3 linked regions of the Homo sapiens genome follow. The protein of the gene in region 3 interacts with the protein of the main gene of each other region in a pairwise test. Each region holds a gene or a part of one and is shown on either strand. Other genes may lie near its edges.

Region 1 (3,651 bases), 8.5 Mb from region 3:
AGCACCCACTCATGCTTGGCACCTGCTGTGCTCTAAGAGTGCAGGGGTCACTCCCTGACCACAGAGGGAGGCTCTCTGGGGTTCTCCCGGAGCCTCGGAGATTGCACCTTGTGCATGCGCTGCTGCACCTGGGGTACATCACCCCCACTCTGGAGCCCACTGGCCGGTTAGCAAAGTGAGAGGTGAGAGAAGGACCTCTTGGTCTTCTTTGAACAGAAAGATCCAGAAAGCAATGGCTAGAACACAAGAACAGGTCAGGGGAGGCAGGAGAGGGTCTGCACACCTGCTACAGGTGTGCTCACACGTGGGCCAGGGCCTGCAGATGAGGGATCTGTGCTGATCATTTGTGATAGCCAAAAGTAGTGAAAACCTGGGGGGACTCCTCAAATGAACTGTAGCACATTGGGGAGATGGACTCTGTGAAGATGATTCCTCTCTCCACCCACTTCCCTTCTCCCTCCTCCTCCCGCTCCTCCTTTTTCGGAAGCCAGGCACAGGGATTGAATCCCACCCCATTCCTCCCCTGCTGTGTGACCTAGGGCAAGAGATGTGGTCTCTGGGATCCTTCGGTTCCTTCAGCTATAAATAGTAGTAGAATTGCAAACTACCTACGAAAACTGGGAACTCCCTGCGAAGGCCGGTGCATTACAGGGCAGTCCTACTCTGAAATACTGTGAGGCTATTGAAAAGCAAGGTGGGTCGACAGATTGTTAAATGCAAAGAGGTGAGGACACAGCCGGCGGTGCATTTAGGGTGCTTCTGCAGGCGTCCTTATACATGGATATGTGCACATCTGCTCCTGAAAGCTCAGAAGATGTCTGGAAAGCAACAGGAGACACCAGTGAGCCTGGCTGTCTCTTGAGGCAACAGGCAGGGACAGAATCTGGAGGGAGACCTACCCCTCACTGTATTCTTTTTCGCACTCTGAAATGTTACCATGAGGATGCATATCTCTTTGCAAAAATTTAAATATAAAAAGCAAAACAAACTTGAATAGAAATAAACTACTTGAAAATTTTAGAAAACACTGTTACATCAAAGAGACAGATCATCAAAACTGAAATTATAGATATTTGAGAAACAACTAACTATAAGAACACTGCTTACCAAACTTATGGGATGCAGCCAAAGCCATAGTCAGGGGATGAGTCATGCCTTTAAATTTTTAAATTATTAAACCAAAAAGATTGCAAAAAAAAACTGTTCAATTCAATAAACTAGATAATAATGATCCAAAAAAGTAGAAGAAAGAAAAGAATTACAAAAACAAAATGACAAGTTAGAAAGGTAAAAAGCATTAATGTCAGTAGGCCATCTAAGGATGGCTCTTTGAAGAGCAGACAGGAGAAGGGCAATCCCAGGAAGTGCTATGTGCTATGCAGAGAATTAGAATAAGTTGATGGCAGAGATCAGTGGGTGGCGGCTCACTTGGGTGGTAAAGAGTAGCCTGCAGCCAAAGTTGGGCACAGCAGTGCAGTCTTCACTGGGGGAATGCCTGGGAAACAAGATTTGCCTGGGTAGGAGTTTCCATCAGCACCCCCAGAAAGGTCTCCTTTCTACCCTGGCCCCCAGTTCTTTGATGGGTTTTGCTGATGCTCCTGTGTCTCTGAACAGCAGGCGCCTCACCTATAGAAAGGTAGGATAGCAGGAGTTAACGCCCCCTCCCCCATTCCATGGCCCCTGCCTGGGATTCTACCATCTCTGCTTCATATGCTTTATAGGAGTTCGGTCTGAGCCCACAACCCAAACAGGCTCACAGATGTGCTAGCTATTTCGCCACCAGTATTTTTTTAATAGTCAATATTTAGAAATTGGCACCAACTGGCCCGATTGTTCAACAGTCCTGGGTTAGGTTACTAGGCCAATTACTTGCTGAGTAACCCAGGACAGGTCACTGACCTCTCCGAACCTCTCCTTTCTCACCTGTGTGATAAAGACTACTGCTGTGCCAACACAATAGGACTGTGTATGAAAGTACCCAGACTGTGCCTAGACTCAGGAAGCTGGTTTATTCCTTCCTCCCCTAACCACTTACTGAGAGACTGCTCAGGGCTCCCCTCAGCTCAGAGATCTTTCCCCACAAGGAGCTGAGAGCCTGGTGGGAGAGACAGGCAGAGACCCAAGTGGTTCTAACACAGCTCTCTGAATCTGTAACCCCAAGTCCCATCCCCAGAGGACACTGGGACAGTCACACTGATGGTTTGTCCCTAAGCCTCCAGCATCAGGAGCCATGTGGCAGGATCTCCACTCTTCTTCTTCCTGGGCCTCTGTCTGGACCGACCCAAACACACACACACACACACACACACACACACACACACACGTGTACACACACAAGTTGCTTCTTTGCTGCCTGCATGTCCTCACACCAGCTTATGACACACCTACAATGTTTGATGTGTCATTGTGGGCAGGTTTCAAGTTGGAGGACCTAGACCTAGGTAAAGTAGAGGGTCTCCCTAAGTAAGGGAGGGTGCACAGTGGAGAGAAAGGGTAGGGGAGACTGCCCAGTGCCATTGACATATGCCTGAGCCCCAGGGCACCCTTGGCCCCCCAAAACAATCACAAGTATCCCCCCCGACAAACCTGCCAAGTAGGCATTGTGTCTCCACTTGACAGTTGAGGAAATGGTCCCTAGAGGGGAGACAGAGCTAGCTAGAGACTGGGCTGGCCCTGGAGCCTGGCCTGGGTCTTCCCATCGCATCCTGCCTCCCTACATAAGCAAAGGTCGAGAGGTGGGAACTCCCAAAGATGCTCAGGCAGGGCCAGGGGAGACCAGTGGGGCAGGGAGGGGACAGGAGGGGAAGGAGGAGCTGGGGCTGGAGAGATGGGTAGGAGCATGAGTCCCTTGCCTGGGCCTCCCCATGGTGGGCGGTGATCCAAAAGCCCCAGTCAGAGCCCTCTGCCCTGTGACGGGGGCACCCTGCATGTCCCCTCACTCCCTGCCCTCCAGTCCCCGCCAGTCCTCATGTTTTCCATGAGGATGAGTACAGCCGCAGGGACTTTCCCTGCAAGTGGTCTGGGCCATATCTTCCGGGAGTCTGTTTGGACTGTGGTGTCTGTGGCTGAGGGGGTGGAGGTGAGGGCACCCAGGCCCATCACTTGACAGAACAATCTGTGGATTTGGGGGAAAGAGGAGGCGACTGTCATTCCTGAGAGAGGACGGGAACCAACAGGAAGGATTCCTGAGTGCCAGGGATGACCACACTGGATCCTCACAACAGCCCTCCTGCCGGGGACAATGCTCCTTATCCCACAAGCGGGGACCTGGGCTCTGACAGGAGGCCACACACTTACAGTCCCTCCCTTAGTGACCGGCAGAGCTGGGATTTGAACACCCCTGGTGAGACTCCCTCGTCCAGACCCCTTCGTTGTACAGCAGGTTTGCCTCACATGCCAGAGTCGGGGTGGCCTCAGGGCACAGCCAGGAGATGTCCCCAAATCCCGAAATGTGGTTTGAGTCCCAGTCCCTCATCTCTCCAGCCTCCAAGCCCTCACCTATGCAATGGTGCCTTGCCCGGCTCACAGGTTATGAAAAGGGGTGAGACGAGACAGTGTCCCCTAAATACATCTGACAGCACTTTTGAATGGAAAAGAGAAAAAGAAAATACTATAAGCATCCAGATTGACTGGAGGTTGGGGAGTTGGTGG
Region 2 (2,891 bases), on a different chromosome or scaffold from region 3:
TTTATTTTAAAGGCAGGGTTATTTCCCCCCAGGGAGTGGGGCAAGCGGGGAAGTTGGGATGAGTGCGTGTGGGAGCAAAGAGTTAAAAATCACTATGCTAAGTTTGGTTGATGCTACTGGGGGGAAAAAGTTGAAACTACTGGTGACCACTGTTGGGAGAGGAAACATCTGTTTTATAGATTTAGCATGGCCTTCCCATCAAAAATACACTCGTACCATGACGTTTTGTTTTTGTTTTTTAAGTAGCCACTTTTAATTACTCAGTATTAATCCTAGGTGCATGTGTTAAGATTTCGGTTTTCATCGAGCTGCTTATACTGATAGTGAAAAACTTGGATGTGTGTGAGACGAGTTACCGCCTTCTTCATTGGATGTGATCTGAACTTTTTTTCTCCTTTCAACATACTTAGGCTGTGGAGTGCAAGCAGAATTATGCATAGAAATTGTGGCAGGGCTGAGGGAGTTGACTGCAGGCAGTTTTTAGGCCAGATAAGGCTAGATCTTCCTGCAATGCACTTGCTGCAGCTTTGATTTTCCAGATCTCAATCGTGTTGCTTCAATCAATATTGAGATCCAGCAGCCTTCACCATCCAGGAGACTTCAGAACTTGAAGGTAATTTTTGGTTGTTATGGGGGTGCACCAGATCATAGGAGGGCATTATTTGGAGGAAACCGCTATAATGTAAAATCAGATTTCAGAAGGAAAATGCAGCAAGGACTGACTGTAGTCCTATTTCAGACCCCTGGGCACTAGTGTCAACTCCTCCTTTGGCTCGTAACTCAGAAAGAACCAAAGGGCAGATTAGGGACGGGGCAGGAGGGATCCTAGGATGGCCAGAGTAGGTGACGCTTACTTCCTTAGCTCCTCCTTCCATTCTGATCTCAGGGTTTTCACTCTTCAAACTCCCAAACACATGACTTCTTCCCAGCAGCCCTTCCCGGCCTCTAAAGTTTGGTCCCAGCAGCCCTTCCCAGCCTCTAAAGTTTGGTCTGGTATGAAATGGGACTGTTTAACAAGCAAGGCTCTTAGGGGACACTGTTGAGCCTGGTCCCAGAATCTGTGATCTCCACAGGGCCAGGGTTGCTACTTGCACCCAGAATCTAGTGATTTTAGTCAGATCCATGGAACAGAGCAGCTTCGTAATACATTGTCAAGTTACCTGATTACAAACTCTCATAGATGTTGGAACTACCTTTTTACTCCCCATACTTTGTAAGTAATGCTTCCAGATTAACCTGCAAATCTTGTGGAGCCAAAGCCTCTCACAGTGCTGATTTACCTCCCCCAAAATGCCCCCAAACCCCCATGCAAGTTTACAGCCAGTAGCTTGGTCTTATTCTCTTGGAGCCCTAAAATTAAGCCTTTCATTCCCCTTTGCTAAAGCATCTCACTCCCAGGGCAGCCCCAGCACCCTGGCATTGCGGGAGGTGCTCTGCTGCACAGCTGTTCCATCAGGCCCTATTGGCCTCTGTTAGACATTGACTCAGGGAGCCGGAGCGCCAAGTGGAGGTTGTACCTTTCAGCCCTTTGGGGTGTTAAAAGTGTCAAGGGCTGGGTTTGCCTCTGATGAGTACAATCAGTTCCAGAAGACTGGGTAAGTCTCTTGCTAGCAGGTGGACATTCTGGTATTTTAGACTGACTGAACGAAACCCAGAGGCTGGTTCCAGAGCTCTGTCCCTGAGAACACATCCCTGTGGAAAATACTTGAGTTTGTAATTTTTTTTCCCCCTTCTGGGAGTGGAGGTCTCAGGCTCAATCCGGAACCATGTACGTACAGTTTTGCTTATTATTTGATGTGACATGAACTCAAAATCCTGCATTTTTAGATTCCTTTTAGTTCTAATTGAGGCCTCACTAGATGCTCTTCAGTTCTGTGTATTTTGAGGCTGGGTGGAGAAGTATATGATTCTGCTGTTGATTCTTTCAGTCTTCCCCCCTTCTCCTTTTATCAATCATTCCAGAGTTATTTTCTATTAGTCAAACTTTTTTGTAGAACCTTCTTTCCCTTACCCTGGCAAATTGCTTCTTTACTTGCTGGTTTCCTTACGTTTGGGGCACATGTTGTAAGAAACTGATTGGAAGGGGAAATGTGCAGCTCTCCACTGGAAAGGAACTCTCCACCCCTCCCATCCTGATAAAACAAACAAGGTTTACATTTACAACTAAAAGGATTCAGATGCAATTTTCAACTATTCTGAAACCAGCAGGACACACCTGACTTTAATAGTTTTAGCTGAAATTGTAGATGTTTTGCTTCAGTTTAACTTATGAGAAAAGATTATCTGACGGATTTTGTGTTGACTTCCCCTTTAGTGGTTTATTTTGTCTTTTTCTGCCCATCTGTCTACTAATAAAATGTGAAATAAAATACCTGTATTGCTACTTCCCCATGAAATGACCCTCTTCTTTTTTTACCTTGTGTTAAAGAAAACTAAAAGGTGGTCTCATTATCACTGTTAAGTTTGCAGATTACGCTGGGGCTCAGCTGAAAAATTAGACAAAAACCAAAACTGGGGAATCTGCCTTTCTAACTAACTCACCTCCCTGGTGTATCCCCAGTCCCTTCAAGCTCCTTATAGACGTAGCCATTTGTTAAACTTGATTCTGAAAACGGGAGCTGATACAAGTAGGTCAGTGAAGGATTGAGGGGTGCTCTGCTGCTTTCCTTAGGCAAACATTTTCACTGTCATTTGTTTTCCTAACTTACTGCTGCTAATAGCAGGGATCAGGCAGATCACCCTATTTAATAAAAGTCCTAATTTTACCTGTAGACACTTACCTTTTTTCTAGGTAAGGTCCCAAGCTGTGGGTTAATAGGAGTATCGGTCCCATCTGATGACAGGACCATCGCTCTCAATTGTAGAGGCCAAAAGCAGAAAAAGTAGATTGT
Region 3 (3,651 bases):
GGTGACCAAGAGGGCCGGGCCTGGGAGGGTGGCTTAAAACCACAGTGCACCGGGGGCTCCGGGCTCTCCGTTCTACAGTGCCCAGACCAGGACCCCCTGCAGGGAGGAGGGGCATCCCAAGGACAGCCTCTCAGGATGCTCCTGGCAGCCTGGTGCTGGAGGTGCAGAAGAAGAAACTGAGGCCCAGGCAGGATGAGTGACTGGGCCAAGGTCTGCTGGTGAGGGCCCGGGCTGGGGACATGCAGATCAGAACCCTGGCTTACACCTGTCAGGCTGCCTCCTGGAAGGAGCCCACTGGCCCCCTGGGGCAGTTGGACAGGTGGAGGGCTGAGGGGCGGTGCGGGGAGTAGGGGCTGGACTGCCGGAAACACCAGGCTTGGTCGTGGACCAGGCTGGGGAGTGGGCCTGAGACCTCAAGGGCAGGTGCTCCAGGACACTCTCCCAAGGCAGGAGGGGAGGAATAGAGCCTCCTGGGGAGGCAGGCGCTTGGGTGCTCGACCCCGCTCAGCTCCCGTGACCTCAAATGCCCTTCAGCCTGGGGTCCCCTGACTTACCGGGTTGGGCAGCACTTGAAGCAAAGCCATGTGGGACCTCCAGTCACAGCCCAGCCGTGCCCAGGTGTGGGACTGTGGGCACAGACCCAGCTTCTCTAGGACCCAGCCGCCTCCAGTTCCCCACCTGTTGTGGGAGGTATAAAGTGCCTGCCTTGGAGGTGGTGGGAAGCCGAGGGCCAGGGTGGAGAGTGCTGGGCCGGGGTGGAGGCTCAGAGCGTGTCCCTGCCAGGCCCGGCCCCCTAGCTCCCTCCCCGAGGCTCCACGCTGCTGTTCTCAGACGCTAAATATAAGATCTAAGCCATACATGGTTGCAGGAGGGCCTGGGATGCCCCTGACCTTCGAGGCCAGTTCCCAGGGTCTGTGGTTGGGGACAGCGGCTGGGGGGATGTGGTGGCGTGGAGCTGATGTCAGAGGTGCAACCCGCCTGTCCTGCTGTTCTGTTTTGGGGAAAGGCACGTGTTGGGGCTCTTCTGGGCTGGGCCTGTTACCTACCCGGGTGTTCCCAGGGCTGGAGTCAGACCTGTTGCGACTGAATCCTGGTAAAACCCTGAGTGCCAAGGGTTTCCGTCTTCCTGTTGGTGTGGGCCCCCTACCCACATGCAGACGGGCAGACTGAGGCCCAGGGGAGACCTGGGAGTCGCCCCTCCTCCCCAGCCACGCTGCTGACGCTGTGGGCACCCCAGGCATGCCTGAGGTTTGGAATCTCCCTGTCCATATTGTCCACTGGGGCGGGGGAAGTGCCCTGGGGTGAGATAAGGCAGCCTCAGATGCGCCGTTTTGTCGCATCATTACCGTGGGTAATGTTCCAGCCAGGGGAGCCTCCCGCTCCCCCGAGTCCTCCCCAAGCTCATCCGGTCCCGTCACTCTGCAGGGGCCGTGCTGGCCTCGTGCTGCAGGTTTCTGAGCCGGCTCCTCCCCTCCCAGCCCTGAGCCTCGGGGTCCTCATGCGCGCAGTAGGGCCCTTCCTGCCTGCCGCCTCGGTTGCTGAAATTCGGTCAGGGATGGGTACAGGGAAGCCTAAGATATAGTGGGGGACACAGTGCTACCCCTAACCCTCAGCATGGCACGTGAGCAGGAATTGCAGCAGAGAAACTGAGACCGAGGGAAGTGGCCCCGCCTGCGCTGGTGGCCAGGAGGACAGCCCCCATCCCCTCCCCGCTGACGGCTCCCTGCCCTCTGCCTGCAGCTCGGCAAGATGTCGGTGAAGGAGGGCGCACAGCGCAAGTGGGCAGCGCTGAAGGAGAAGCTGGGGCCACAGGATTCGGACCCCACGGAGGCCAACCTGGAGAGCGCGGACCCCGAGCTGTGCATCCGGCTGCTCCAGATGCCCTCTGTGGTCAACTACTCCGGCCTGCGCAAGCGCCTGGAGGGCAGCGACGGCGGCTGGATGGTGCAGTTCCTGGAGCAGAGCGGCCTGGACCTGCTGCTGGAGGCGCTGGCGCGGCTGTCGGGCCGCGGCGTTGCACGTATCTCCGACGCCCTGCTGCAGCTCACCTGCGTCAGCTGCGTGCGCGCCGTCATGAACTCGCGGCAGGGCATCGAGTACATCCTCAGCAACCAGGGCTACGTGCGCCAGCTCTCCCAGGGTGAGCCGCAGTGTGGGAGGGCCGCCCAGGCGGACGCTGGGGACCTGGTATGAGGCTTCAGGCCCAAAAGGCCCCGGGAGGCCTGGGGAACCACCAGGAGGAAGCGCAGCCAGGCAGGCAAGGAGGGCTTCCTGGAGGAGGACTGGCTTCCTGGGCTCAGGAAAAACATCCACATTCACTCCGAGTCTGAGGCTTCCAGGTCACCCCAGTCCCCGCACTGCTGCACCAGCGGTCCCCCTGTGCCCCTCTCTGTTGTGTGGCTCTGCCCCACCCTTCCTCCCCGTCCTGTGCTGGCTCCCACCCTCTGGGCTCTCTGCCCTCGTCCACACCTCGGCGGCAGGAGTCACTGAGTCAGAGATGCGAATCCACCCGAGTGGCTCCCTACATACACCTGCCTAGCTCCAAGCCCTTCAGCCTCAGCCCAGACAGAGCCCTTGAGGTCTGGCCCACACCTACTGATGGTGTCACCCTCCACCTCCCAGCGCCTTCCCTAGCGCCTCCCTCCCCGCCCTGTCCCCTACTCCAGCACCCAGGGGACTCGTTCCCGGCAGGCAGGCAGGCCCTTGGTCTCTGCCTCTGCTCGTGTTTTCTGCCTTTGCGTCCTCCAAGGTCCTGCGCCGCTAAGCCTTTAAGCCCCAGCTCACTTTCCTGTCCTCCAGGAAGTCTCCCCAGGCTGTGCCCAAAGTTAGTCCCGGTCCCTTGAGAGAAACCCTTGCTGTGCCACTCCATGGCTGCTGCCAGGTCCTACCGATGCTTGGGGACGAGCTAGGGTGGGCAGTGATGGGCGGGGCTGGGCCCATGGGGGCGGCAGTTACCTGTGCAGGCAAGCAAGCCAGAGGCGCCTCGTTTCTGTCGGACCCAGGGGACAGAGGCAGGTGTAGGGGCCAGCCATTCTCAGCCCGTCTCCCCAGCCTGGGCCTGGCAGGGCCCCTCTATGGAGTCTTTTGTGAATTGTTCTCAGCAGGGTCAGATGAGAGACACCCCCAGAACTTTCACAGCTCCAGATGGGGTGGGAGGCAGGGGTTCATAGGAATGAGGTTGTGTCTGCCATAAACACAGTAAGTGCTGCATTGGGAGAAAAGCTGGGCCCAGAGCCAGTGACAGGATGGGGCAGCTGCCTCCAAGCCCTTCCCTGCAGGGTCTGGCCCTGTGGTCCAGGAGCAGGGCCAGGACACCGAGGAGTGGGGCACCTCGTTGGGTCCCAGCCCACTGCTGTGGGCCACAGACAAGTGCCCGGCACCCCCTGGCGTCTGCCTGCCAGGCCCAGAGCCCCAGCCCTGAGCCCAGCTGCACAGGCATGGGAAGGGGTGCATTGGCCCTGCTGAGCCTGCCCACTCCACCCTGGCAGCCCTGGACACATCCAACGTGATGGTGAAGAAGCAGGTGTTTGAGCTACTGGCTGCCCTGTGCATCTACTCTCCCGAGGGCCACGTGCTGACCCTGGACGCCCTGGACCACTACAAGGTGGGCGGCAGGGCCTGGGCCTGGGCACATGGGGCTCCCTGCCTGGG

Evidence for each region.
Region 1: the proteins of INF2 (region 3) and BDKRB2 interact in a two-hybrid assay, tested with the Homo sapiens proteins (one large-scale study listed by BioGRID and IntAct).
Region 2: the proteins of INF2 (region 3) and UBE2R2 interact in a two-hybrid assay, tested with the Homo sapiens proteins (one large-scale study listed by BioGRID and IntAct).

The regions. Positions count from the first base shown.
Region 1 is NC_000014.9:96,211,211-96,214,861, forward strand, and holds part of BDKRB2 (B2 bradykinin receptor), read left to right. Parts: intron 1-3,651. UniProt on the Homo sapiens protein: Receptor for bradykinin. It is associated with G proteins that activate a phosphatidylinositol-calcium second messenger system.
Region 2 is NC_000009.12:33,918,009-33,920,899, forward strand, and holds the end of UBE2R2 (ubiquitin-conjugating enzyme E2 R2), read left to right. Parts: 3' UTR 1-2,391; downstream 2,392-2,891. UniProt on the Homo sapiens protein: E2 ubiquitin-conjugating enzyme that accepts ubiquitin from an E1 ubiquitin-activating protein, and catalyzes its covalent attachment to other proteins by an E3 ubiquitin-protein ligase complex.
Region 3 is NC_000014.9:104,699,617-104,703,267, forward strand, and holds part of INF2 (inverted formin-2), read left to right. Parts: intron 1-1,740; 5' UTR 1,741-1,749; coding exon 1,750-2,140; intron 2,141-3,488; coding exon 3,489-3,604; intron 3,605-3,651.